Regions from separate parts of the Homo sapiens genome. Here all the other regions are linked to region 2. Evidence: fine-mapped expression QTL. A gene starts in region 2. Each other region holds a variant in brackets. All regions are shown on one strand. Distances are between the middles of the regions.

Region 1 (5,771 bases), 24 kb after region 2:
TTGGGATATGGCCAAGGAGGCCCTCTTCCCAGAGATTTGGGCTTCACCGGCCACTGCAAGTAGCCTGCAGGGTTGTCATTTTGGATGGCTGTGGGGCAGTACACTTGGAGGCAGGTGGCTGTCTGCAATCCCCTCAGCTTCTTTGAACATGTGTTAAGATACGGTGGCATCTGCAAGTGGAAGCTGATGCTCAAACCGAATCGTGCCTTCACAGCCCCTGGGGCCTCGGTACCCAGATTCTGCAGGTGAGCAGGTCAGGAGTGGGGCCCAGGCTTCTGCATTTCCAGCAAGCTCCAAGGTGAGGCTGAAGCTGTGGGCCTGTGGACCCCACTTTGAGAAGTGGGCTTTAAGGAAACCCGTGTCACAAATGACGCAACCTGCCTTGTGTGTTTTCTTTGTCTCCCATGAGAACGTGAGCACGATTTCAGTCAGCATAGACTTCTACGGAAAAACATTCATTCAGAAACATACATCATGCTGTCTCCTCTCCGCCTCCTCTCCCTTTTCCCTGGATCTCTTTCCTTCAGACGTTGGTAAGCCAGTTTGGGAGACGATTTTAAAAATCCTTATCTGTAATGTATTTCCTTGTGAACTGGGAAATCAGGAGAGCCCTTGAACCATGGAGCATCTGCATCATGTGACGTGCTTATGACAGAAGATAATCAAACACTCCGTCGGCACATTATTGGGCTAGACGCTGCATCCGATGCTCAGTTTCTGCTCTCAGGGAGCTCACTTAAAGGAATCGCTTCAGGAAACGCTTAGTGATCATAAGGCATTAAATATTAGGATAGATGTGTGCCCAGTTTCCTATGTACTGTGATATGTTACTAAGCAAAAATTTGATTTAATTAGCTTTTATTAATTTAAAATTGTGTTTCTAGAAATGAGGCTCGAGAGAACTGCGACATTATCCGTGGTGCAGCTCAACTGCCCTACCCTGGTCTCCTTGGAAGGAGACAGTTTTTCCCACTCATGGTTGCTACCACACTTTTTTTTTTTTTTCAAGACAGGGTCTTACTCTGTTGCCTGGGGTCGTAGTGCAGTGGCGCAATTTCGACTCACTGCAACCTCAACCTCCCAGGCTCAGGTCATCCTCCCACCTCAGCCCCCCCAGTAGCTGGGACTACAGGCGTGCATCACCACACCTGGCTAATTTTTGTATCCTTTATAGTGACGGGGTCTTGCCATGGTGCCCAGGCTGGTTTCAAACTTCTGGGCTCAAGCAGTCTGCCCGCCTCGGCCTCCCAAAATGCTTTGATTACAGGCGTGCACCACTGAGCCTGGCCTGCTACTACACTTCTTTTGATTCTTACAAGCTCATTAACTGGTATTAGTAATATTTGTGAACCTCCCTGCTGAACTATAAATCCTTTGAAGGCTGAATTTATGTCCTAGTCATCTTTGGGTTGCCCACCATACCTGGCACAAAAAGGTGCTCAAAATTCCTCCTTCAATGATGCTCACTACTCCCTGGAGCTTGGAGTTGCTTTGCTCCAAACCAGTGTTAGGTGGGGCCAACTGGACCACAGGAATGGGAGACAGACAGGATTCCTCTTTCCCTTTCCATAGTCCTTCAGGCCCAGGATTTGAGGGCTGATGATGTGTTCATAGATCGATGCCCCAAATTTGAATGCTTTCTCAGTGGACAGGTCTTTGACATGCTGGTTGTTGCAGGCAGGGAAGCATTGGTTGGCACAGATGGAGGCACATAGGACTCCAGGCGTGGGGTTTGATGTCAACAACACAGTGGTGTTTGGTGTCAGTGACTGCCTTGCAACACAGATGTTACTGACATTTTAACAAAGTGTTCTCTCTTCCTAACCTCAACTGAGAAAAGCAAAATACTGATTTATTTTCCAAAGCTTTGAGTGTTCCAGAACATATTTGCTGGCATAGGATCAACTTCTGTTGTCTTGATTCTATATCGAGTGTCATCAATTTAAAAGCTCGTTTTTGTTTAGAAGAAAGAAGGGAAAGACCAAGTGGAAAAACTCACTGTTCCACCTGAAATGTTGTTTGGGAGGGAAAGCAAAAAAAAGTTTCTCAATCTTTCTGGCACTTTTAGCTCTCAAAAATATTTTTTTCCTCCTTCCAGCCAGCTTGGGATTCTCTCCAGGGCTGAATCCATTCATGTGCTTTAAGAAATAATCTTAGCAGGAGTTTACATGTTTAAAAAGTAAACTTAGGAAACCTTTTTTTCTAATGAAATGCTAACTGACACCTGTTTCGTAAATGATCCACATACCCACATTCCCCAGCCCTCCTGCCACCATTTTATTTGTTTATTTTTTGTAGAGGCGGGTTTCTCACTATATTGCCCAGGCTGGTCTCAAACTCCTGGGCTCAAGTGATCCTTCCACCTCAGCCTCCTAAAGTGCTGGGATTACAGGTGTGAGCCACCGTGCCTGGCCGATCATTTTCTCAACTTGCCTTATGACCTCATCCAGACCCTCTTTCATGAATAAGGGAGGTGCAGCCTTTGACCAGGGTTCCTTCTGCAAATATTTCTGCCCATTCTCAGGGAAGATGTACCTGTTCCAGGACCCCTCCCTGCTGCCGGCTGGGCTTCTCACCCTCAAAAGGCCTCTCACCCCACACCTCACCAAGCCCACCCCTGTCTTAACTCCTGAAAACACAGCACACCCAGGTTTTCACAGATAAGACATTTTTACTGAGAGTTTATGGGAAATTGAAAGGAATTACATTGTGAAAAAGAAAATATAAGCTGAGGAGTTTATGGGAAATTGAAAGGAATTACATTGTGAAAAAGAAAACATAAGCTGAGGAGTTTATGGGAAATTGAAAGGAATTACATTGCGAAAAAGAAAACATAAGCTGAGGAGCAAAAAAAAAAAAAAAAAAAA[G/AAAG]GCAAGACTTTGGGCATTCTCCCCCGGCCCTGGACCCTTGAAGCTCACCTGGCCTCTTTCCCCCAATCAATATGACACTGGACTGTGGTTTGAATGTGTCTCCCAAAGCTCATATGTTGGAAACCTAAGCCCCAGGGCAACGTTGTTGAGAGGTGGAACATTTAAGAGGTGATTAGGTCATAAGACGTTACCCTTGAGATTGGATTAATGTCCTCATCAAGAGAGTGGATTCAGCCCTGGGGGAGTGTGTATGCTACGTGGGAGTGAGTTCGTTATAAAAGCCAGTTCAGCTCCCTCTCTCCATCTCTCTCTTATGCCCTCTTGCCTTCTGCCTTCTGCCTTCTGCTCGTGGGATGATGCAGCAAGAAGGCCCCCAAAAATCATGAGACCCTCAGCCTTGGACTTCCCAGCCCTCAGAGCTGTAAGAAACAAATCTCTGTTTTTTATAAATTACCCAGTCCTAGATATTCTGTTAGAACAGCATAAAACAAACTATGACACACAGTCAGGGTGGGGGCAGCCTTCCACATCCTCAGGCAGAGCGGATAGGCCCCCGGAGCCTCCATCTCTCCATTGCAGAGGGTAAGCTGAGCTTCAGCGTTGAGTAACCGAGGAACCATGCACGGTCCTCCCTGGTCCACCCCTGTCCATTCCCCACAAAGGTCAGACTTTTTACAGTAGGAATTCTGCTTTAACAGTGATACCAGCTGAACCAGAAGCCAATGGCAGCTTGAAACAGCAGCTTGCTCCTGTATCTGAGGATTCTGTGGTCCCGAATCAGCACGTGTCACAGGTAGAGCCGAGCTAGGAAAGAGCTGCTCTGGTCAGAGGGGCGGGGTGACCAGAACGTGCACCATCCAGGCCTCCTCCAAGATACTCCAAGGACCTCAGCCCACTCCCTCGCGGCAGGGAGCAACCCCCTCCTCTGTTGTTGACCAGGTGCAAGTTTATATCATTTTTAACAAGCACTATTAATTGGCTCGTGCTATTTTTCACAGCCAATCTTTAATCACATTTGTCAACATACTGTGCCTCATCCCTCACTTTGGGTTGTTGCTTATTTTGGTCAAATGCATCCTTTGTTATTTCAGAGAGCAGCCATAGGTGATAAACCCTCAGGGTTTTCAGACGTCTGAAAATCTTTTTAGTCTTGCCATCACGTGCGTGCGAATTCAGCTGGGTGCAACATTAGGGGCTTGTAGCTATTTCCCCTCACATCTCTGAATACATTATGTTGTCATCTTTTTGTTCCTATGGACAGGAATTCAGTCTAATTTTGTTCCTTTGTAGTAATCTATTTTTCTTCCTCTCATAGTGTTTAAGAAATCTTTTCATTTTGAGATAGCTTTAGATTTACAGAAAAGTTGAAAAGATATGTCTTCGGTTTCCCCTGATGTTATCTTTTTTTTTTTTTTTTTTCTGAGATAGGATCTAGCTCTATCACCCAGGCTGGAGTGCAGTAGCACAATCATGGCTCACTGCAGCCTCGACCTCCAAGACTCAGGTGATCCTCCTACCTCAGCCTCCTAAGTAGCTGAGACTACAGGTGCATGCCACCACGCTCAGCTAATTTTTAAAAGATTTTTTGTAGAGATGAGGTCTCACTATATTGCCCAGGCTAGTCTTGAGCTCCTAGGCTCACGTGATCCTCCTAAAGTGCTGTGATGAGAGGCATGACCCACTGCGACATAGCACATTTGTTAAAACTATGAAGCCAATATTGGTGCATGCGGTCATCTGCACTCTAGGCAGTGTTTGGGTTGCCCGGATTTTTCTGTTCCAGGATTCCGTCCAGGAGGAGTCCTGTGTCTCCCTGGTCACCTCTGCTCTGGGGCAGGTGCTTGGGCTTCCCTTGTGTTTCAGGACCTTGGCAGTTTTCAGGAGGACAGGGCAGGTGTGTCATAGAATGTCCTGCAACTGGGAGTGTCTGACATTTCTCTCACCGTTAGACTGGGGTTGTGGGAGTTTTGAAAACTACAGAGGTGAGGTTCCCTCTCATCCCCCAGTATCCAGGGGTCCTGGTACCCACAACATCAATCCCGGCTGAACCTGGCCTTTACCACTTGGGAAGGCAGCGTTTGGCAGAGTCCCCACTGTGAACTGTAAAGTCACTACTGGCTCTTCCCGGACTCCATGATGTGGAAGGGACTCTCAGTCCTGCCCACACCCAAAATGGGGGCTCGCCTTGGCCTCCCAGAAGTGCTGGGATTACGTGTGGGAGCCGCGACACCTGGCCAACTTTTCCATTTGAATGAAGTATAGCTTTATCATTTCCTTTGAGAGTGGGATCGATTGTTAATTCATTTTTTCTTTAAGACAGGAATGTATTCACTCTTGAAAAAGGTTTTACACCTCTTTACACTGAGAGGTTTACCTTTTTGACCTTGTTACGTAAAGTAAGAAAAATAAGTTCATTCAAGAAAGTTTTAAATAAATCCATATCTGATAGAAAACTGAATATCTGGAGTGCAGCCTTAGCCTCCGTAATGACATCATATTCTTCTAAGAAATATCCCCTGGGACTCCCATCAAAGACAGAATGATGGTTTTGACCCAGTGTGACATTTGTTTTATTTTGTCCTTTTGATTTCTGACACTGTAAGTACATCCATAATCCATTGAGGGATAAGGACACTTACATACTTTGCTGAAAAAATAAATATCATGAAATTACCTTAAAATTATTTCTATAATTGCTCTCTTCTATGATGATCATTGAAGGCCAATTCTGTTGCTATAAAAACTCTACTGATACATTATTCTCCATGTGTGTATTGGGGTTGATAATCAATGAGATCAAAAGTCAGGCCTATCAGTGGAAGAAACTGATAAGAAATTGTGGCTTCCTCTGTTCCTTGTCACCCTGTGTTTTTCTGGCATTATTTACATTTACACCAAATCGTG
Region 2 (5,771 bases):
GGTTGGATGCTGGGACACAAGGGTCACTGTGTCCCAGGGCTCTTGAGAACCCTGCAATTGTTTCACCTCAGTGTAGTATGAAAGAAATATACATTTTAGGTTCAACTGAGAAACAAGAAACACAGTTTGCATCAAACATTCAGATAAAAAATGTTGTTTTCAATTTATTATACTTCATCAGGTTCTAATTTTGGAGTTCTGAAAAATGGACCCCCCAAATTAACTTTACTTCACTATAGCTTAATAAATAAATAGGTAAAAAACATACTATGAAAAATTTTACTTATGCTCTTGGCTGATGGTTTAAAAAAAAGTAGAATATGAGAGTATGAGAAATTGTCCAGATATTCCTAGAAACCCTTGAGGATCCAATTACAAATACTGAAGGCTAAACTATTTCATTTCTAAGATCAAGTTTTTGGTTAAAGGAAAGAAACTATTCTGCCAAATGTATATGAAACATGGAATTTTAAATCTAGATATAGTTCTCAAAAAATGTTCAATTAGTACAGCCACATAAAGTGTTTCGAAAAACGAAAGAGGATCCCGTCCCTCCGAGAACAAATATGAAAACATTCTACCCACTACTTAATAATTACAGACACCTGTCCTAGTTCTTCAACACGGAGCCCTCTGTTAATCTGCTACAAACCTCTCTGCTGCTTGCTGTTTTCAGTGAGTCAACTGAGGCAATGTGTTTCCACAGTGCAGGAGACACACCTACCAAGGCAGCAGGAGCAGTTACCAACGATGGCTTGGCCCCTTTCTACCTGCGCACCCTTGGATGTGACTTCACCTGTGATTCAGTTGCCACATCTATAAATGAAGCTACACATGGTATTGCTGTAAGGAATGAACACAGCAAAGCATCTGAAGCCTATGGTCAGCAGTCAGCTGACAAACGTCAGCCACAAAGCAAACAGGATGCTCCCTGCACTGCACTGGAGTCACTGACATACTGGTTTGTTTTCCCCACCAGACTCTAAGCTGCTTAAGGATAGGGGCTTGTGGTGCTCACTTTTGGATTAACATTTCAACAGCTTATAGAGTTGAGGTTGCAGAAAGCACCCGACAAGCTCGTTAAATAAACAAATGCTGTGTGACTACAGGAGCAGTAAGTGATCTGCTGAGCCAAGATCAACTCAACATTTCTATAAAAGCGGTTCAATGATAGCCAAGAAAGTCTAGTACACACACCCAGCAGTCCCCGTGTCCACAGTTCAGACTGACTCAGTGTTACGTTGTACAGCATCTATGCTACTGCTTGGGTGTACGAAAATCTAAACGCCGTAAGGGGGTTACTCTTTTCCTTAAGAACGTAATCTACAGAGCTCTAACAGTTCAGGGTGTAGGCGGTTTGGCTTCAGACCACAGTTTACTCAGCGACCCGGCAAAAGGAAGTGCTGAGAAGTTGCTCCCCTGGCAACCGCCTCCTGAACCCATGTGACGGGTTTGTTTTCAGTTATCCAGCAGGGTAGCATGTTTGCTGCCGCGACCAATGGCCTTTCAGTCCCGCTGCTCACCAGTTCCCCAGGCGGCCAATCCGGGGCGGCTGGCGCGGGATGACAGCTGGGGCTGTACCCGGACGCCAGGAGGGAAGGGCCCTCAGTCAGCTTGGCACAGCACCTGCTTGAACAGCCAATTATCTCCCTGCCTCATCTCCATCACTGTGCTTCCTCAAACTTCAGAGAGCTGTGGCCCGAACCCGCCCTCGGGGGTGCCAGGTCCTCTCTACCCCTCCTTCATTTCTCTAAATCCCAAGACTGGAGATGCACACTTTCAATCTGTGGATAGTTCCAGTTTCAAATGCATGTTTCTTATAGGCTGAAAAGTACTTTCAACCGAAAAGACACCCTTTTTACTTCCAGAAGAACCAGGAGGGGTACTCACCAGCTGCTGTCCCGCAGCAGGGAGGGACCCACCAGGCGGAGGAAAAGATGGTGGCGATCACCTCCTCGGGGAAGAGAGTGACATTCCTCTGGATCTGCAGCAGGTTGAGCACCAGGGCTAGGACCACCCCAACCGAGAAGAGCACGAGGCTCCTCTGCAACAGGCGATGATGCCAGGTGTTGGGGTAGGGGCTGCCGGGCTCGGGGCCGCTCATCGCAGCACTGCGGCCCCTGGGCGCGGGGTCAGCGTCCGGGGCACCGTGGGCCGCCAGCAGGGAGGGCCCGGACACGGAAACGTTGATCATCTCCCCAACCTTGGCCGCCAGCCCCGCGGCGCTGGCTCGCGGGGGGCCTCGGCGCCTCGCGCTGTGCGCACAGGAGCAGCTCCAGAAGTGGTCGTGCAATCTGGGCATCGGTCACACGCGTCCAAGAGGCGCTTCCTGGAAGAAGGGGGTCATCAAGTTCACTCAGAAGAGACAAAGAGCGAGGAAGGCCCCGCGGGACGCGAACCCCGGCACCCGGGCCAGGCGGCAGCGCCGCCCCCCAAGGTTAGACCCCCGTGCGCCCGCCCGGGGCCAGCGGCGGACGGGACCCGCGCTCACAGCGAGCAGCATCCCCGGCCCCAGCGGGACCCGCGTCCCAAAGACCCAACAGGGCCCGCGCCCGCCTACCTCCGGGGAGGACCGGCTGCTGCGCGACCAAAGCCCGCCCGCGACCCCTATCCCAGCCGGCCGCGTACCTGGCCGAGAGGCGCCCGCCCGCCGGCTCTCCGAACGGAGGCGGGGCGGGGGAAAGGAGGAGTCACGGCCCGGGACGGCCGCAGCGCCTGGCGGGCGCGCGGGTTTATATGGCGGGCCGCGGGGCCCGCATCACGTGAGCCTGCCCGGCCTACCCACCGCCCGCGCGCACCGCCCAGGGGCGTGGCCTGAGCTTGCCCCGCCCCGCCCGCGAGCCCGTCCGCACGCGGTCTGGTGAGGCGGCCGCAACCAATGGGAGGCCGGCGGCCCATATGACGTGCGCACACGCCACCGCCGGCCCGCGCGCACTCGGGCGGGAGCCTCGGCACGGACTGCGGGGCGCGTGGCGGCTGCGGGGCACGCGGGCCCGAGCGGGACTGGCCGGCTGCGAGTGGGCGGCCGCGGAGCTGGGGCCTGGGAGGGGACGGTCCTGCCGGGAGGAGGCGGAGGCAGGACAGGGTGGGGTTGCGGGCCCGGCGCCGCCCCTCCCGGCTCCTGGCTCCCCTCGCCTGGTGTCCCGCGCCTGGCCGGGAGGCGGCGGGTCTCGATCGCGCGGGCCTCCCTGGAGGGGCGCGGGCTCTGGCGGCGGGGAGGCCCCTGCTCAGCGCAATGGCGGGCTTGCATCCTTGGGTGATTTTTTCGGGCCCCTTGTGGCCTTTGCTCACGCCTAGAGAGCAAACCACCCGCACCACCCAGGAGCAGATAAAATCGAGACCACAGCCTCCAAGGGAGCGCGCCTCCATCCTGTTTGCCCCTCGGGTCGCCGTCTGAGGGCGGGCCCGTGCCCGCTCAGAGCCTACATCCGAGTCGTATAAAGCGCTGACAGCAGAGAAAGCTGCGGCTTTGCTCCGTGCAGATGAGCAGGGGCTGAGGGAGGACGCTGTGCTCTCAGTAGCCGCGCTTGGCCCGGGGACCCTGCAGGCTTAGAAACGTGAGTCACGCCTGCAGCGTGGCGAGGAAACGCCGTTGATGTGGCATCCTCAGCCTGGGGTTGTGGCTTTAAGCCAGAAGGTCAAAAAAAGAAGTCTTCCTGAGCTGAGACTGCCCTGAGTCGCTTTAGGGGCGAAATTCCGAGCATCCGGTTGCATTTCCTGAGGATGACACGCGTGGTGGGTGTGGACGGCCTACAGGGGTCCATCCTCAGCGGCCCCTCTGCAGGGCAGTCTCGCTCTCACTCTCCCAGCTGACTCCTCTCAAGCCTGTTAACCATTGTACACGTTCCCAAGGACTCCAAGCAGGTTGGACTTCAGGGAACATTGCAGTTTGGGTCTTGGCCATTGTTTACACTCCACCTTGCATAAGTGCTTGAGGATCACACAACCAGATACGTAGATCATCCGTAGATCATCGCAGTCACATCGAAGATTTGTTTATAATAGGAAAAAAAAAAGCTACCCACTGTCATGCGCTGGGAAACTAGTGAGCTGAAGGATGACCCATCTGTAAATGGGGTGCTCCCTAATGGACAGGGCACCTTTCAGAAGCCTGTGCTGTGTCTCCTCGACCCCACTGTGAGCTCCCCGTCCCGCACGCTGATCTAAATCAAGCTGCTAACCTCATGGAGAGGCGTCCGCACGGGAGCCCCGGCCCTGAGATGCGGGGCAGTCACCCATTCAATTAGGAAACACCAGCAAGTGCCAGAAGCTTCTCATTAGCAGGTCAGCTTTCAATAACTGGTTTATCCAGGTGTGTGAGACCCGATAAGCAGAAGGGAAAGCTCTTAGCGACCTATCCAGCTGCTCTGCACTGGGCTCCTGACATCCCAGAAATCAGTACATCTGTCTTCTGGGGTCCAAGAGGTATTTCAGTTTCTCTGGCTTTGTTTCCCGTCATTTGTACCTGGCCCTGCAGACTACCCCAGTATTTCCATCATAATACCCCTGTGGGCAGGTGCATACCTCATGACAATATTTAATATTAATAGATTTATGTGTTGTCTCCAGAATGGAAAGGGGCTGTCTATTCCTTGAGCTAGTTGGCTTGCTAAAGACTATTGACTTCATTCTTCTTTTCCTATCTACCTAATAAACCAGTGTTCATACAACCCAGCCTCTCTGACTCTGTCCCTCCTCTCATCTGTACTGGGACATTATGAACCATGGAAGATCCTGGAGTCATAGAGGCACCCTGTGGCTCTGTGGCTGTTGCACTTACACCGACCAAGATGTCCCGTGGGAATGTGGGAAGGTTGCCCGTGGGGTTCCTGCTGAGGGCCTCCAGCGTGGCCTCTGAGTCGTAGGTAGAGATTGTCACTGCGTTCCCAATGTGTGTTTGCCCAGGTGCCTGTGGAGTCTGGCCCCATGAAGAAATGCAGCCTGGGGTAAAGACAGTGGGAGAGTTTGAGTTTACCCCCTTGAATACCCCCTTTGAAGACCGAGCCTCCATATCAGTAACCACATTCCAAGATTTTCAGGGGTTGAAATTTGCTTATCCTCAAGCAAAGCTGTTGTTGATTTTGTTTCCCTGCTAATCGTGGGCCGTGTGTTGAAGATAATGGGGTTCATTCTCTTCAGCCCCTGTCAGCCACTCTGAGTTCAGCATTTAGGGAAATCTGCTCATGATGGCACCGTTTAGTTCTTAATTGCCCCACAATACAGAAATCATCACAGATGTGGCCTTACTCTAGGGGAGTTGACTATTGTTGAGTTAAACACCTCGCCGTGCCTTCCCAGATCACTAAGTAACCCTCAGACTGGTGGCCTCTGTACTGAACAGGCTGGCGGAAGGGAGCACAGGACGGCTGTAGCTCTTTCGGATACGGAAGAATCATGCACTCATAAAGGCCTAAAGACTGGGAGGTGTCACGTAGTGAGCAATCTTGCCTTTAGTCTGTTCTTACTGTTCTTTTTATTATAACATTAATAACCATTTGTAAGAAATATTCTTAAGATAAAGTAGATTACCAAATATATATTTTTTCATATAAAAGCATCACATGCTCATTGTAAAACATCGTGGAAAAATATATTTTAAAGAAATAGTCTATAATCCTACCAACTAGAGATGACCATTGTTAACATTTTGAGGTATGTATTTCCAAATATTTTTTCTATCCATAAATGTGTTTAAAAAAACACAAATAGGATCAACTTCACATTAGTGGAACCAGTTATTAAGTGATCATGAACGTCTTTTAAAGGCAATC
Region 3 (5,771 bases), 34 kb after region 2:
TGCATGCAGCCTCTGCCGTCACTAGGCAGTTTGCTTTCCTTCTGACACCTGCCAGTCACCTCACAGTTTCAACAGGGCTGCTGAACGCCAGGCATCAAGCACATGTTCCAGCCAGTGACAGGAGGGGAAGGCAGGGAGACAAAGGCCGCCAGCAGACCTCCACTTCCAACTCACGAGCCGGAAATGGGTCCATAGTTTTTCCTCTTAGGGCAATAGCATGGGAGGCCATTGATTCCCAGAGACGTTCCCAATGTTAGGCCACCCACCAGGGGCCTAAGAAGTGAAAAGTCGATCAGTCCTGCTCAGAGGAAGTGGATAGTAAATAAACAATAAGGAAGTCTTTGCACAGAAACCTAGGCTTGTGTTGCTGTATTAGACACCACAAACATCGCAAAGTGAAACAGAGAGCATTTGTGATCTTCAACTGCAATCTGAGCTGGATTTTACAATGAGGAAGTTGTGATAAGTTGTCCTTGTTATTCTGCAGGATCTCGTAAGGAGGCCACTTGCATTCAGAATCTGTCAAAGGACCATTTTCAAAGCAGAGCTTAAAGCGGCATCACTAGCACGTCTCACACAACACAGAAGTCCTGGGGTCGAGGCCTGGGCGCAGTCTCTGCTCTCCGTGAATTCAGTCAACGAGGCTTTGCCTGTCCTTGCCGGTGCCCTGGGGAGATGCAGCGGAACGGGCTGCCTCTCCTCGTTCTGTGGGAGCTCACAACCGTGTTTGGCACACGCAGGTCAGCCAGGGTGAAGGGTGAAGTGTGAGCAGGAGGAGGAACAAGCCGAGGGCTGCAAGAGGAAGAAGAGGGCGGTCACTGAAAGGGCCACGGAGCTGTGCCCCAAGGTCCTGTTGGTTCTGAGTTCAGGCACTGCTGGCAGCCAGGAGGGCTCACAGCCCTGGGGCACAGGGGCGAGGTAGTGATGCAACTGCCTGGCAGGTGCCTTGGGTGGAGACGAGTGCCCCCATCTCAGTCATCATGACTTCTTTATTCATGAGCTCCAAATATTATTTTCCTGGCCAACCACAACTCCTGGTCAGGCTGGGGGTGGTCAACTTTCTTTTGCCTCATTTAAACGCACAGTGCTGCTCCTCAAGTCAACAACCTCTCTTCAGACTCTGCAGTGAGTTTAAGGGGCATGTATGCATGTGTGTGCGTAAGTGTATGCATGTTTATGCCTGTGCTCACACGTGTGTGCCTGTTTATGGGTGTGTGCATGCACATGTGGGTGTGTGCATGTGTGTCTATATGTGTATATACATGTGGGGGTGTGTGCATGTAATGCTTGTATATACCTATGTGTGCACACATGGCGTGTGTGTGTGCATGTGTGAATGGATGTGTCCTGGACCGAGACAATGATCGTGCTTAAGTAGTTGTACCTGAGCACAGAGTGACTAGAATTGGGAAATTTCTACGATCCCAATTGTATTCTGACTTATGATCCTAACACTAACTCCCATCCAGGGAAGCTGAGAAGGAAACTCTGAAGTCAGTTGCATATCTAACCTCCCCCTACCCTGTGCCCCCACACCACTGCTGCATTCAAAGCTGCCTCACCATCTTCCCAGCCCACATGGCCTTCCTGGTTCTTACCTGTGAACCTGCTGTTTCTCTCTGCTCGAAAAGCCTCCAGAGTCACACAGAATGCATCTTTCTTCATGCAGCGCGAGGTTCTTGAATAGCCAAAATGCCCAAGCATGATGCAAAGCCCTTTTAAGAGTTATTTATCATTAAACCTCACATTGATCTTAAGAAACAGGAAGATACGGTTGAGGGTACAGGCTCAGAAAGGTTAAGTGATTTGCCCAAGGCCACATGAAGGACCTGAATCAAGGTTTTCTGGCTCCAAATTCAGAGCGTTCTGTTATACTCTCCTAGTTTTATTGATCATGGTACTGCGCAAGACTTTTCAGGAGAGTTTGGTCATCTCCCATGATGCCAACTCCAGAAGATTAGGAGTGGGCCCCTGTGCGAACAGGAGGTTGTTCTGGGGTCCATGAGAGGCGGCGGTCACACTTCCTAACACGTTCAGCTGACGCTGGTGCAAATAGGACAAAGGAGGGGCTCTCACCCCAAACATTCCAGTCAGGGGGACGGAACTTGGTGTAAGTGAGGGGATATGGGGGCAGCAGGGAGCCCAACCTTGCCAGGAGAGCTCAGAAGAGGTCTCATGGTGTGTGTGTGTGTGTGTGTGTGAGAGAGAGAGAGAGAGAAGAAAGTTGAAGAGTGAAAGCCCATAGTTGCTTAAGGCAGGAGAACTGATGGGTGAACTTTGCTATTATTTGCTACACTCTGGGAAAGTGTTTTATTCTTAGCCCATGTCTCTTCCCAGCATGCACACACTCACACTCATACGCTCACACACTAACAGATACACACACTCAGACATACTCCCACACTAACACTCAGACACATACTAACACTCAGACACCCACTCACACTCACACACACTCCCACACACTAACACTGAGACACACACACTAACCCTCAGACACACACTCACACACTAAATGCAGACACACACACACTAACTCTCAGACACACATACACAGTCACACATACTCAGACACATACACATACACTCAGACACACGCGAACACGCAGACACACACACTCACACTAACACTCAGACACACATACGCAGTCACATATACTCAGACACACATACTTACACTCAGACACACAAACTCCCACGCACTCACACACACACTAACACTCAGACACACATACACAGTCACACATACACTCAGACACACACACACTAACAGTCATACTCCCACACACTCACACACTTGCTCACTTGTACCCACTTCCCTCCCTGCTCTCGCCTGCCTGGTTGAGGGGTCCACAGCCACGCAAGACCACCCCACGCCACTGCGGGGCGCCAGGCATCAGCTTTCTGAGCCCTGAGTGGGGTCCGGTCCTCTCCCCTTGGGCTTTTTGGTTTTGGTCTTAGAAATGTTCGGGGAGCCATGGGGGTCATCCTGTGCCCTCCTCCTGGTCTGTTCACCAAGCTCAAGAGGGAAGACAAGTGATCAGAAATCCGCAGATAGTGAGCAACAGCGGGAAAGGACTCACCAGGAAGGAGGCAGCCAAGAAAGAGCAGTGAGTGGAGAGGCAACATGTGCCACGGCGCACCCCGAGGGGAGGATGCACCCTCCAGCGAAGGCTGCACCCCCAGGGAAGGGCTCACCCTTGAGTGAAGGCTGCACCCCGAGGGAAGGGTTCACCCCAAAGCTGCACCCAGAGGGA[A/G]GTGCTCACCCTGAGGGAAGGGCGCACCCCAAGGGAAAGTTTCACCCCGAGGGAAGGGCTCACCCCTAGGGAAGGGCGCACCCTGTGGTAAGGGCTCAACCCGAGGGAAGGGCTCACCCCGAGCAAAGGCTGCACCCAGAGGGAAGTGCTCACCCCGAGGGAAGGGTGCACCCCAAGGGAAAGATTCACCCCGAGGGAAGGGCTCACCCCAGGGAAGGGCTCACCCCTAGGGAAGGGCTCACCCCGAGGGAAGGGCGTGGCTGTGTGGCCCAGTCACCACCTTGATTAGAGGCTCCTCATCTGGACCTCTGCAGAGAAAGGGGGCCGACAGTAAGCATTTTATTTCATTTTTGGTTTTTGTTTGTTTGTTTTGAGACAGGGTCCTTCTCTGCTGCCCAGGCTGGAGTGCAGTGGTGCAATCTTGGCTCACTGCAGTTTCAACTTCCCAGCTTCAAGCAATCCACCCACCTCAGCCTCCCAAGTAGCTGTGACCAGAGGCATGTGCCACCATGTTCAGCTAATTTTTTAAATTTTTTGTGGAGACAGGGTTTCGTCATGTTGCTCAGACTGGTTTTGAACTCCTGACCTCAAGCCTTCTGCCCGCCTCAGCCTCCCAAAGTGCTGGGATTAGAGGTGTGAGCCACCGCACCCAGCTAAATTGTAAACATTTTCAGTGTGAAGGAATTAGTTTACATTAAAGATGTTTCCTATGGTTGGTGATTTTGGAGGGTGATTTGGGCTAAGGCTGATGGGAAGGGGAGGGCCGTGAAAGTGGCACCCCATTGACAGACGGTGTTGGCAGGCTGGTCTGCAGGTCTTCCGGTCTCTGTCAAACATCCACAGACAAGACAGAGCAACATGGAGAGGTCCAGGCCCACATGGAGATGCATTTATCTAGCATTTTCTCCTTAAGCAGAAAAGATGAGCTCGCAAAAAAAAAAAAACCAGCACGACATTGACCTTGAAATTCCATCATTATTGTAATTGATCACAAGTCAGCTGATCACTAGGCAACTCCGCTTTCATCACCAACTGTGCAAGGCCAGGAAATCCACACGTGCCCTCCTCCTTGTGTGGTAGACGGCCGCCAAGATCGCATTCTTTAGATCACGCCGAAAAATCTCTGCTGACATTTTCATGTCAAACAGGAGTATGTGCTTACGGAGGAAAGAACCACTTACGGTTCTCAGTGGGAGGTGGCAGAACACAGCTCTGGGTAACTGAAGCAGAAAAGGAATTGTTAAAAGAGTATTTAAATATTCCTTTAAATTATTAAAGCGATTATTAAAAGAATTATATATTGTCTAGCTCAAGGAATGGAGGTGGCGTGGGGAGGAGAACGAGTTTCCTAGCCTACCACAGCGAGAAAGATGCTGGGAAAAAGGACACTGGGACCCGCTCAGGGAAGTCTCTACCACCAGCACTACTGGCTGCACACACAGAAGGGACCTCAGGCTAGAGGCTGCAGGCTGCCGCTAGACCTGCTGACACCTCTGCCCATGGGAACGGCGTGGCCATCCAGGGTGGTGTCTGAGCCGTCTGAGTTCTGGGAGTCACTAGCTTCCCGGCAGGGTAGGCTTGCAGCTAGGCTCATGGGTGCGAGTGCCCCTGTGGGCAAAGCGAGTGCTGGCCTCTGCACTTTCTGAATGTAGTGTAGCTACGTTCAGATCCTGTGTCACGAGTTGGAGGATTCACCAAACACTGGGAAGGATTTCAGATGCCTGGTGGCCAAAAAAAGGATGGCAATGTCCACTGTGGCAGAAAAGCTCTCTGGAAGTCCAGGAACCACTGCTGGAAAGCTGCTGTTTAGGAGCTGGGTCAGTGCAAGAATGAGAGGGCGCCCTGTGTGGCTGCAGGTGACACATTCAGGGCACAGCCAGGGAACACAGTCCAGCCAGATCAAATGGCCTGGCCCAGAGCACCATTATTAAGTTTTACTATGGAATTGTGCTTGTGAAGTAAAGGGCGTTCTAGACCGTGTTGGGAATATGCACTGAACACAGAAGAATACGCTAAACTGAAATACTGTAGGCTGCTGTGACCAACCTTTTCTGGGAATGTGCAGAATGTACAGAACTTGAGACCTTAAAGTGAGGGCAACTGATGCTCTCGTCATCCTGGAAGCCGGAAGTTTGAAGTCAAGGTGTCGGCAGGGCAGGCTCCCTCCGAGGGTGGGAGGGAGAGTCTGTTCCAGGCCTCTCTACTGGCATACTATGGTGGCTTGGTGTCTTTGGTGTTCCTTGGCTGTGGACATGTCACCCCCAGCCCTGCCTCTGTCCTCTGGGGTCTTCTCCCTGAGAGTCTATGTCTTCACAGGGTGTGGCATCTTCTGTCTGGAAAACAGGTTATCTGCTTCCCAAATGCCATGGTGGGACAGGCAGAAGAAAGCCAGTCCCCTTCCAAAGGGGAGAAACTGGAGGGAAGACGCTGTCTCGGGTCCTAAGCAACACCCCAGCCCCACAGGGCAGGTTCCACTGGGTTCAGGGCCTGCGGTGACTGTGTGGCGTGTGCTCT
Region 4 (5,771 bases), 40 kb after region 2:
GGTCAGGATAAAGCTAAGCTGCTGAAACCTGAAAACGTGGGTGCTGCTCGCTGACAAGACAGCTCCTGGGGGCCGGCCCGGGTCAGGGGTGCAGGCCCAGGCTGCCGTCCAGGGACCCAGGTTCTCCTGGGCTGGGATCTGCCACTTTCAGGGCAGAGTCCTCCTTGTGGCCCACTGTGGCTCCTGCTGGCTGGAGGGGGAGAGTGGAAGGAGGTGCTAACTGCATGGAGGCTGCCCCAACCTCATCCCCATGGACGAGGGCAGGAGTCTGGGTGGAGAGCTTGCAGCCACTGTTATGCAGACCCTGCTGGCTGCTGCACTGGTCACATAGTAGTAGGTACTTTGTGAACACATGATTGCTCATAAATCAAAGCACAGCAGAGGCCAGCCCTCATCACAACGGAGCAGGTGGCCTCCTCCAGCCCACGCTGCACTTACTGCCTCTGGGAGGCTCTGTCCTGTGATTCTGTGGAGTGGCAGTCGGCAGCTCAGTACTTCCTGCACTGGGCTTGCTGGCCACACATCCCAAAAGCAGGGGCCTGAGGGCATGAGCAGGAAGGACATTGAGGAAAATGCAAAGGACCTGAGAACAGGCTGGGGACACGGGTCACTAGGTGATTGCATTACCCGGAACCTAGTCCAGCGATGCCTCCTTTAGGTCAGAGAAGGGTTCCCAGGGCCAGGGAGTGTTTACAAGAAAACTCCCTTGGCAATGAGCCTATACTATAACTTGGGGATATGATTTTGGCACCGTGAACCCAAACCAAGCTATGGGTAGATGGGGATGTGGTAGGGCCCCACTGTTCACCTGGCAGTTCAGATGAGCTCCTTGGCCATCATCCTGTAATAAGACTGATGGCATGGAAACAGACGGTGTTGCATCACTGAGAAAAGATTAGGATGGCTCTCATGAGGACCCAGGTCCATACGTATCACCAATTGAGAGACTTGCTGACGGCCCTCAGACAACAGCAGGGTGCCCATCCCCATCTGTCCTCACCCATCCCTCAGCCTCCACACGGCCCAGGTGTGACACCCTGAGTTTGCAACGAAACAAGGAAAGGAAAATCAGTGACCTGGACACTCAGCTCTTAGGATATTGTCCTTATAGTGGTTATATCTACATATGCGTGTGCTGCATGCATCTCCAGAGCTCTGTTGTGTGAGTACACACACATCCACACACACACAGAGAAGAGAGAGAGACACAGAGAGACAGAGAGAGAGAGAGGAGGAGGAAGAAGAAGGAGGAGGAGGAGGGGAGGAGGAGGAGGAGGGGAGGAGGAGGAGGAGGGAAGGAGGAGGAGGAGGGAAGGAGGAGGAGGAGGGAAGGAGGAGGAGGAGGGAAGGAGGAGGAGGAGGAGGGGAGGAGGAGGAGGAGGGGAGGAGGAGGAGGAGGAGGAGAAGAAAGAAGTCCAGAAACATATTCATGTAAATTTAGGCTGTGTTTCTTCCTGGAGGTATATTGAAAGAACAAGTCTACAAAAATTATATACATATAGGCCGGGCATGGTGGCTCACGCCTGTAATCCCAGCACTTTGGGAGGCCGAGGCAGGTGGATCGCAAGGTCAGGAGATTGAGACCACCCTGGCTAACACGGTGAAACCCCATCTCTACTGAAAATACAAAACATTAGCCGGGCATGGTGGTGGGTGCCTGTAGTCCCAGCTACTCGGGAGGCTGAGGCAGGAGAATGGCGTGAACCCAGGAGGTGGAGCTTGCAGTGAGCCAAGATCGCGCCTCTGTACTCCAGCCTGGGCGACAGAGCGAGCCTCCGTCTCAAAAAAAAAAAAATTATATACATATAAAACAAGGCTTTAATCCCTTACAATGCCATTGCATTACTTTTGTAATCAGAAAAAATATAATTGTGGTACAAATCAAAGTTTAGGTTGAAATATTCATGTCATTGGGATTATTTTCCAGCTTGAATTCATCCACATGATGTCTTCCACTGGATCTTCACCCTGGGCAGGCCCAGTGTTACTCATGCGTGTGGTTGGAAGGAGCCCAAAGAATGTGCCTACTCTGAAATAGTTGCTACCACCAGGCCTGGTAAGGGCCTGACATTCACAGCCTTAGGGACTGTCTTTGAGATTAGGGCATAGTGTCTCTCTCCAAGATCACGACTACAAAGCAAAACCATGCCACATGTCCCCTGCAGGGACGGCTCCCTGGGGAGGCCTTGGGAGCACAGTGGCACAGCCAGATGGAGACAGACCTGGAAGTGACCTGGGGAGGGCAGGGGCTCGAGCCAGTGGGAGACCGTGGGGGTGGGTAGGAGGCAAGATGGGGACAGCCTGAGGCGAGATGGCCGCGACTGCTCAGGCCGAATGAGGACACATCAGGAGCGAGGATCCTAGGAGGGTCTCATAGGACGAGCCTCCTGTGTGTGGCTGGGTGTGGACGGCTGAGTCCCTTGGCCACCAGCCACGTGTGGGATCAGCCCAGCCGGCCTCTGGGTCGTGTCTGTGCATCTCAGTGGATCATCGGTGGGAGCTTTCCGGGGAGGCAGAGGGGCTCTTCCTGGACAGTGCCGCCAGATTCCCCCACCACCGAGCGGCATGCCATGGCTCGGCTTGCTCCTC[A/G]CAGCCTCGCCCCAGCTCTGTGGCTGGATCCGTGCTTGTGGCTAAGCCTCTTGGCAGCTCCGCCTGGATTGCTTTCAAGTCCGCACTGCCGCTCCTCCCTCTGAGTCTGTGAACGTCTCAGGGGACCTTCCACACAGTTTATAATATTGTCCCTCCTCTAGGCTTACCCTGGTCAACTTTCCCCAAGTCGGCGTGTGCCTACTTCCCACAGAAGTTTACAGAAGCCGGAAGTCCCGTCAGGGTATTAGGAGGAAGCCTGCATGTGGCGGATTTAGCCTCCTGGCCTCCTTGTCAATGGTCAGGATCAAGTTCTCCATCTCCCGTGCCAAGGAAAATACAGGCTTTGGATATGAGAGATTTTAGATGTGCTCAGCTTAGTCCCAGGCTTCTTTTTACTCAAGGACATTTCCTGGTACTTTGACCTTGCCAGGCGCTTCCAATTACTTTGTTTAATTATTTTCTTCTATTTTTCTGGGTCTAGGAGCGTGGGAGTTCTTTGATGTGGCTTAACCTGGTGTGTAGAAGCCACTGGTGCAATGGCTAATGATGCTTATTTGAGGCAAGTGTTTTCTAAATTCTCAAGGTTTCCTTTTTTACACGTAAAATTCTGACCTTGAGGAAGTTGGGGACTTTTCTGTCATTTAGGCCAACACTGAGCAATTAACTTTTTAACAATCCCAGGGCTTTGCATCTTTGTTTTTTCACTTTGATTCTTTTATGTCTAACAGTGGGAAAAGGTAGCATCTGAAACAAATTAATATGTGGCCCAGGGGCAATTCGAAACAATCTGGGCAAAAGTCCAATCATATTAGCTGCAGCATCAGAAGCTGGAGTGACCCTTGACTATGGACACAATTCCTATCTGTGCTGGGAGAGGCCTTTCAAAAAAAACCCCCGAACCTTTTAGGTTTTCAAGAGTAGATAATAGTAGCAGTAGGTTCTTTCTACCCTACTCCGAAGTCATTCCATTTCCATCTGGATTCCTTAGCACTTGTGTCCATCTCTGGGCTACACGGGTGCTTTTCTGTGCTCTCCTGTCATTTTCCATGCGCACAGAAAGTGGGTAAAGTAGTAACGCAGGCATAAACCGGAGTTATCGTCTTGTCCCTCATGACATGATAAGCCTCGTGAACTCAGAGACTGTGGACATTTAATCTCTGCACACAACACCAAGCATAACAGCTCACTCACGAACCCTGTGATGCTGGATATGGGGTCTGCTCGGTCCTCCCCCTTGCCCCAGGCCTGCTAGGGACAGTTTGTTTTTGCTGGATCATCTGCAGGCTCTCGCCATGCAAAGCCAGTGTCTTAGCTCAGGCTGCCGTGGCAAAATACCACAGACTGGGAGTTTCCACAACAGACAGTCATGTCCCCCAGTTCTGGAGGCTGGGAGTCTGAGATCGGGGTGCCAGCAGGTCAGGGTCTTCCTGGGCTGCAGACGGCCACCCTCTCACTGTGTCCTTACGTGGCAGGAGAGCAAGTCCTCTGGCCTCTTCTCATGAGGGCACTCGTCCCAGCACGAGGGTTGTATCACCAGGATTGCACCGAACCCTGATTATCTCCTGACGTCCCCATGTCCAAGCCCATCACACTGGGGGTTAGGACTTCAACATGCAAATTTTGGGGGGTGGGGGCGGCACTAACACTGAACTCATAACAACCAGTAGAATGGACTGGAGCTGTGTGGCCTCCGTGGCAGTCCTCAGCCACTTGCGGCTTTTGAGAATGTGGCCAGTCCAAATGGAGACATGCTGTCAAGTGGAAGAGGCACACGGCGTTTCGAAGGCTGCTTAGAAAAAAAAAGTAATGTATCTTATAAGTAATTCATTGATATTTTGGATGTACTCGGTTAAAGCATAATATTAAGTTTCATCCTTCTTTTACTTTTTACAAATGTGTCTATGAGATAATTTCGACTCACACATGTGGCTGGTGACGCATTTCCTTTTTAAGAAATGCATATGTTTAAGGGTGGACGTGATTTTTAACATTTATGACCTGCTGTGTTGATATCCATAGACATGGTGATTAAGACAGTCAGGCAAGTTCTCAAATCCATCACCGCCCGGTCCTCCTCCTCCTCCTCCTCCTCTTCTTCCTCTTCTTCCTCCTCTTCCCCTTCTTCTTCCCCTCCCCCTCCCTCTCCCCCTTCCCCTTCCCCTTTCCCCTTCTTCTTCTTCTTCTTCTTCTTCCTCTTCCTCTTCCTCTTCTTCTTCTTTTTCTTCATCATTTTGGTGGTAAGAGAGTCTAAAATCTACTCTCCTGGTGAAGTCCCGGGGTGTGCTGCAGTGCTGTGAACTGCGATCTTCCTGCGAGCCAGCCTCTGGACTGATTCCTCCTACCTCACTGCGACTCTCTCCCCTTGACCTGCATCTCCCCATTTCTCTGGAGCCTCCCTGGTAACCCCCATCCCATCTGCTTCTGTATAGCTGGGAATGTTTTCCTCTGGGCGGGGAAATAGAAGAGCCCAGAGGGACGGGGCTGGGGAGGAGCTGGGGGCCTTGCTTATGACTGGCTCAAGCAGGGCCGCTGTGGGCACAGGGCGCTGGAAAGGCCAAGGCAGAGGTCCTAGAGAAATGCGGCTCCTGGTTAGGAGCACCAGAGGTTAGGATTCCTTTTCAATGATGTTTAGTTTCTGGATTTGAGTCTCTGAATGGGACCTTATGCAGCGAATGAGCCACAAGGAGCCGCTTTTACTTGCCTCACACACGGTATTCATGAAGATCTTCACTCAGCGCAGCATCCCTGAAGGAACGGGAAAACAAGGTTATCACAAATATGAAGGCACTGATGGTAAATTCAGTTCTTGCAGGCATAGAACTTTCTCCATCCATTGAAGCTCCCCGGAGATTGTGGTATGGAATAGAGGAGAGGAAGTTAAAATGAGACGTGGCCTTCCTGGGTCTCACGTTACTCCCGTGGAGCATCCAACTCTTGTCTAGGCTTGAGCGTTGGCCGGGGTTGGGGAGTAGAACCTCAGACCCACCATATTTTTTAGCCTGGGGGCTGGGAAAAGGGAATAGGAAGTCATAGCTGTCTCATCCTACTCAATCTTACTGCCCTTTGTATTGGAGAAGGTGCAGAAACCATTTCAGAGCAGCCTCTGTCTTGCTTCTCTTCTCCATTTCTTTTTTGTCCTTTTCTTTCCTTTTTTCTCCTTTTCTTTTTCCCCAAGGGAAGAG
Region 5 (5,771 bases), 92 kb after region 2:
ATATTCCCACACACACTCACATTCCCCACTCACACCCATTCCCACACAGACACACTCATACACACACACCCATTCCCACACACACATTCCCCCCACACACCCATTCCCCACACACACTCACATTCCCACACACACTCACACCCATTCCCACACACACATTCCCACACACACCCATTCCCCCACACACACCCATTCCCACATACATTCCCACACACTCACACCCATTCCCACACACACATTCCCACACACATTCCCCCACACACACTCACACCCATCCCCACACACACATTCCCACACACATTCCCCCACACACACTCACACCCATCCCCACACAATTCCCACACACACTCACACCCATTCCCACACACACACCCATTCCCACACACCCATTCCCACACACACCCATTCCCACACACACTCACATTCCCCCACACACCCATTCCTACACACACACACACACCCATTCCCCCCCACACATACACACTCATACCTATTCCCCCACACACAGACACACACACACCCATTCCCCCCACACACCCATTCCCTCCCCCCACACACAGACACACTCAGGCCCATTCCCACACACACACACACCCATTCCCCCACAGACACACACACACTCTCACACCCATTCCCACACACACAGACACACACCCATTCCCCACACACAGACACACTCATACACACACACCCATTCCCACACACTCACATTCCCCCCACACACTCACACCCATTCCCACACACAGAGTCATACACACACACTCACACCCATTCCCCACAGACACACTCATTCCCCACACACAGACACACTCATACCCACACTCACACCCATTCCCACTCACACACTCACATGCCCACACTCACATTCCCCCCTCACACCCATTCCCACACACTCATGTTCCCACACACACACTCACACCCATTCCCACTCACACACTCACATGCCCACACTCACATTCCCCCCACACCCATTCCCACACACTCACGTTCCCACACACTCACACCCATTCCCACATACCCATTCCCACACACACTCACATTCCCACACACACATTCCCACACACACTCATACAGTCTCACACCCATTCCCACACACACACTCACATTCCCACACACTCACACCCATTCCCACACACACACACTCACACACTGTAACACACACACCCATTCCCACACACACACCCATTCCCACACAAGACACACACACCGATTTCCACACACACACGTACGCACACCCATTCCCACACACACCCATTCCCCCACACATTCCCACACACATGCACTCCCACACACACCCATTCCCACACACACTCATACACACTCACACCCATTCCCACACACAGACACACACACGCACGCACACACGCGTACACACACACATTCACACACAGTCACACACGTTAAGCCATTTTAACTTTAGCGCCTCAGCTCTCAGTCCCCAAATCACCTGCACACCCAGAGGCAGGGGCTACTCACAACGGAGCACCTTGGACAGAGGCAGGTAAACCCACTAAGCTGGATTCCTGGAGAAGCAGGAAAAAGCGGAGCCGTTTCTCCTTGAACATCCTAGATGCTCAGATAAAAGAGATGGAATCTCATTGGATGGATTTGAGGAAACCCCCAAAGCTGCTTCTTGAAAACATCAACCAGCGACCTGCCGTGTGCTGAGATTCTACCTGGCTCTTTGTTTTCAGGAAGTCTTCCTGAGAGAGCACACTGTTGGCGTTTTGCTGGGTAGATATCCCTTGGGGGGGTGTCCTACCTACTGAAGGGTGAATAGCAACCTTGCTCAACCATCACCCCAACAAAATCCAGGAGCACCCTCAGTCACTGTGACCCCCAAATGGCGTTTGTTGTATCCCCCAAATCCATATGTTGAAGTCTTAACCCCCAGGACCTCAGAATGTGGCTGTATTTGGAAACAGGGTCTTTCAAGAGGTAACTAAACTAAGATGAGGGCTTTGGAGTGGGCCCTAATCTAATCTGACCGGTGTCTTTAGGATGCAGTTTGGGTATTTGTCCCTGCCCAGATCTCATGTGGAAATGTGATCCTCAGTGTTGGAGGTGGGGATTGGAGGGAGGTGTTTGGATCATGGGGGTGGATCCCTCATGAATGGCTGGGCTAGCCTCTTGGTGATAAGTGAGCTCGAGCCCTGGGTTCACAGGAGTCCTGGTCTTTTAAAAGTGTGTGACACATCCCCCCTCCTCTTTCTCACTCCTGCTTCCCCCTGTGATGAGCTGGCTTCCCCTTCTTCTTCCGCCATGACTGGACGTTTCCTGAGGCCACCCCAGAGACAGATGACGTCACGCTTCCC[G/A]TACAGCCTGCAGATCCCTGAGCCAATTAAAGCGCTTTTCTTCATAAATTACCCAGCCTCAGGGACTTCTTTATAGCCAGGTGAGAACGGACTAAGAAGAAAAAGTTGGGAAGCAGACGCTGACAGAGGGATGACCACGTGAGGACACAGGGAGAGGATGGCGTCTGCAGGCCACGGAGGGGCCTGAGGAGGAACCAGCCCTGCCCACGCCGTGATCTCAGATTTCCGGACCTCAGGACTGCGGGGAAGGGAGTTTCTGTTGTTCAAGCTGCTCGGTCCACGGTACTTTGTTATAGAAGCCACAGCAGAGTTATATGCGTGTGTATGCGTGCACACACACACTCACACACACACACACAGACACTAACACACACGGACACACACTTTCTCACACACAGAAACACACAATGACACACACAGACACACTGACACACAGGCACAAACACACACACTCTGTCACACTGACACACACACACAAACACTGACACATTCACATACGGACACACTCTCGACCACTCACACACACTGACACACACAGACACACTGACACGCGGGCACACACAGACACACTCACGACACACAGACTCACGTACACTGACACACTCTCACGGACACACACTCTCGCACTCTCACACAGACACACACACTGATACAGACACACACGCTGACACACACAGAGACACACACACTGACACATCCACACAGAGGCCCCACATTTCTCAGCCTTTTGAGGTAGTACATTTAAATAGCATTTAAAATACCTATTAATTCATTAAAACACTCATAATCCTGTTATACGTCAGCGTAAATACCTTATGACAAATAGCCGACTGGAAACCACTGACTGAAAACCACAGAGTCAGCTCACGGAAGATGGCTGTTAAAATGCAAATGCACTTTGGGGAGGACATGGTGGCGTGAGTGTCAGGAAGGAGTGACTTGGCTTGTGAGTCAGCGTCTAGAAGGCGTGCGTCTGGCCTCTGAAGTCGGATGGGAGGGCCTGGGCTGCCTCCTGACTGCCACTTCCCTGCTGCGCGGCCTCCAGCCAGTGTCTCCACCTCCCTGCCCTTGGTCCGTAAATGGGGGGGTAATAGGACCCACTGCACGCGTTATAGGAGGGTCAAGTGGCTCCATATCTGCAAAGGGCTTAGGACAGCGCCTGGAAAGCACGCGGCGTCTGCCTTCCTCCGTCACTGGGAAGCTCGGGGGAGGGGCCACACGGACACAGGCTATTGGCTGAGGGAGCAGGGAGGGGCTGAGACACGATCTGGAGCCCGGGACTCACACATTGGGTCTGAAGAGCTATGGAGGCCACCACGGAGCATGCGTTTATGGGGGTTGAATGCAGCCACGATGCCACGTTAGAAATCACCAATGAGAAACACTAGAAATCGAAACTAAGAGCATTTAAAATACCTATTAATTCATTAAAACAATCATAAACCTGTCATACGTCAACGTAAATACCTTATGACGAACAGCTATATTTTCCAAAACAAAAAGCATTTAGGGGGAGGCATGGCATTGTCTTCGTGTCTGCAGAGCTCTCCAGTGTCTGACTTGGAAGAGCTGGGTTTTCCTGCCTGCTCCTGCATTCCACCTGCTTGCAGAGCATGGAGACAGTTCCGTGTGACACAGACATGCAGCTAGCAAAGTGGGTCCCTCAGGGGGTCTCGGGGATGTCAGGGTCCAGGGGCCTCCCTGAGGGCTTCTGATATGGTCTGGAAGGTGCTCCGCAGAGCCAGGGCAGTGGGCGTGCTGGGGAGCCAGGCTGGGGGGCTGGGCACCCCCTCCCTCATCCAGAGCAGCCCTATTCCTATCAGATACATGTCTTGGGCTCTGAGTCAAATGCTGTGTGTACAATAAAGTGGATACACCTGCTCTGGGGCCTGGGGCTACACTGGAAAGGTGAGGCTTTGGGATGGGATGGTGGAGGGGAACCGCTAGGGCCCTGGGAGATAAGGGCGAGAGGCCTCAGGTGTGCCCAGGTGGGAGAGCCAGGGCACCTGCAGTGCTGCTGGTCCAGTCCCAAAGCCAGCAGAGGCCCTGCTACCTCCACATGCTGGACTCCAGGAATTGCTCCTGGCAGCAGCAGGGAGCCCTGTGGAGCCAGGACACAGAGCCACATGGTGCGAGGGTGGCTGCTGCCAGGAGTGGAGAGGCGGCGTGCACATGGGTGACCTTGAGTGCACAGGTGCTGTGTGCCCACACAAGAGGTAGCTGGCCCACGGGGTGCTGCCCTCCCTCTGCCCCCCCAGCACACCTGGTCCACACACCTGCCCTGCTTCACCTGGTGCCACACCCTTGGGAGCACTGCTGAGGCCTAGAAGTCTTGGGCATGAGTGTGGCCTCCCGATAGGCAGGGCTCTGGCTCTCATCTGGGAGCACGGCAGAAGCTGTTGTCTGGGAGCACGGGTGTCCAAGCCCATGGAGAGCTGTCCCCCATGGAGAGCTGTCCCCCAGAGCCACCTCTTGCTGGAGGCAGAGCGCCTGCAGCAGGATGCGGGCCTCACATCTCAGGGCCTCGGCCTCCCTCGTGCTTACCCCTCCCACAGGCTCCTCTGCCCTTGCTGTCCTCACCTGGACCCTCCCCGAGATCCCCGAGTGCCCATCCCTTCACCAGGAGCCACTGGCCCAGTGTCTGTTTCCTGCCTCACTTTCCTTCCCAGGGTATCCCCTGCTGCCCTGCATGAGGCTTCTTTACCTGCTGTCTGTCCACCCCAAGGCAGGAGCTCCCTGAATGCTGGAGCACCAACAGCTCGGTCCCTGCAGAGTCCCAGCACCCAGTGAAGCCACTGTGAGGAGGACTTGGGCCTCAGGATGCACGTGCAGCCATGGAGACCCCACGGGGCGGCCCCTCGGATGATCCTGGCCTTCTGGGTGGTCCCCGAGGGTTTGTTTCTTTCTGGGACTTTCTAACAGGAGGTCCTGCTCCTTGCCGCCGACTCAGCCCTGCCTGTAGCTTCCACAGTGCGTCAGAAGTCACCGCTCACCTGATGCTGGGAATCCTCCTCCCAGGGCTCTGGAAAATTCCACCTCAGCCTGACAGACTCTCCCTCCCGCACCTGCACAGCCCCCGGGGCTCCGGAAAATTCCACCTCAGCCTGACAGAGCTCTCTCCAGGCTGGTGCGGGTGGGAATAGGCCTGAGAAAGCCTTTTCTGGGTCACAGGCAGTCCTGAGTACATGCTGACTGCAATGTACCCACCTGACCCACTGACCTCAACCCCTGACCCCGACCCCTGACTCTGGGGACATGGGACCCTCCCCTCAGGAGGTCTGGCCTCACCTCACTGGCTAGGGGCCCACAAAAGCAGGAGGAGCCACTGTTCACTCCACAAAGCCCTAGGCCAGGAAATGCACCCACAGGGCCAAGGGAGAGCAGGGAGGGGGAACTCCACCATGAGGACCCTTGGGAATCAACCACCAACTCCCTTGTGGGTGTGGTGGCTGCCAC

Evidence for each region.
Region 1: its variant is fine-mapped to the expression of INSIG1 in whole blood (INTERVAL, PIP 0.97).
Region 3: its variant is fine-mapped to the expression of INSIG1 in whole blood (INTERVAL, PIP above 0.99).
Region 4: its variant is fine-mapped to the expression of INSIG1 in blood mononuclear cells (TOPMed, PIP 0.99).
Region 5: its variant is fine-mapped to the expression of INSIG1 in whole blood (TOPMed, PIP above 0.99).

Annotation. Positions count from the first base shown.
Region 1 is chr7:155,271,091-155,276,861 of GRCh38, reverse strand. No RefSeq gene overlaps it. Among named protein-coding and RNA genes, the nearest start is that of INSIG1, 24 kb to the left of the region's middle. The variant G/AAAG (reference allele first, on the strand shown) is at 2,868.
Region 2 is chr7:155,294,817-155,300,587 of GRCh38, reverse strand. It overlaps INSIG1 (insulin induced gene 1), which reads right to left and starts at 2,710. Exons shown (of 6, transcript NM_005542.6): 1 at 2,629-2,710; 2 at 1,891-2,329. The coding sequence starts at 2,302. INSIG1-DT (INSIG1 divergent transcript) reads left to right here and starts at 1,608. Exons shown (of 2, transcript NR_183448.1): 1 at 1,608-2,437. RefSeq lists enhancers at 1,185-1,254, 3,665-3,714 and a silencer at 2,375-3,204.
Region 3 is chr7:155,260,798-155,266,568 of GRCh38, reverse strand. It overlaps LOC105375588 (a long non-coding RNA gene), which reads left to right. Exons shown (of 5, transcript XR_928227.3): 2 at 488-1,125; 3 at 1,884-2,110; 4 at 2,962-3,110; 5 at 3,637-3,676. Among named protein-coding and RNA genes, the nearest start is that of INSIG1, 34 kb to the left of the region's middle. The variant A/G (reference allele first, on the strand shown) is at 3,258.
Region 4 is chr7:155,254,646-155,260,416 of GRCh38, reverse strand. No RefSeq gene overlaps it. Among named protein-coding and RNA genes, the nearest start is that of INSIG1, 40 kb to the left of the region's middle. The variant A/G (reference allele first, on the strand shown) is at 2,590.
Region 5 is chr7:155,203,184-155,208,954 of GRCh38, reverse strand. It overlaps LOC124901783 (a long non-coding RNA gene), which reads right to left and starts at 3,251. Exons shown (of 2, transcript XR_007060603.1): 1 at 3,128-3,251. RefSeq lists enhancers at 1-140, 3,070-3,319, 3,350-3,419, 3,450-3,499, 3,510-3,689. The variant G/A (reference allele first, on the strand shown) is at 2,316.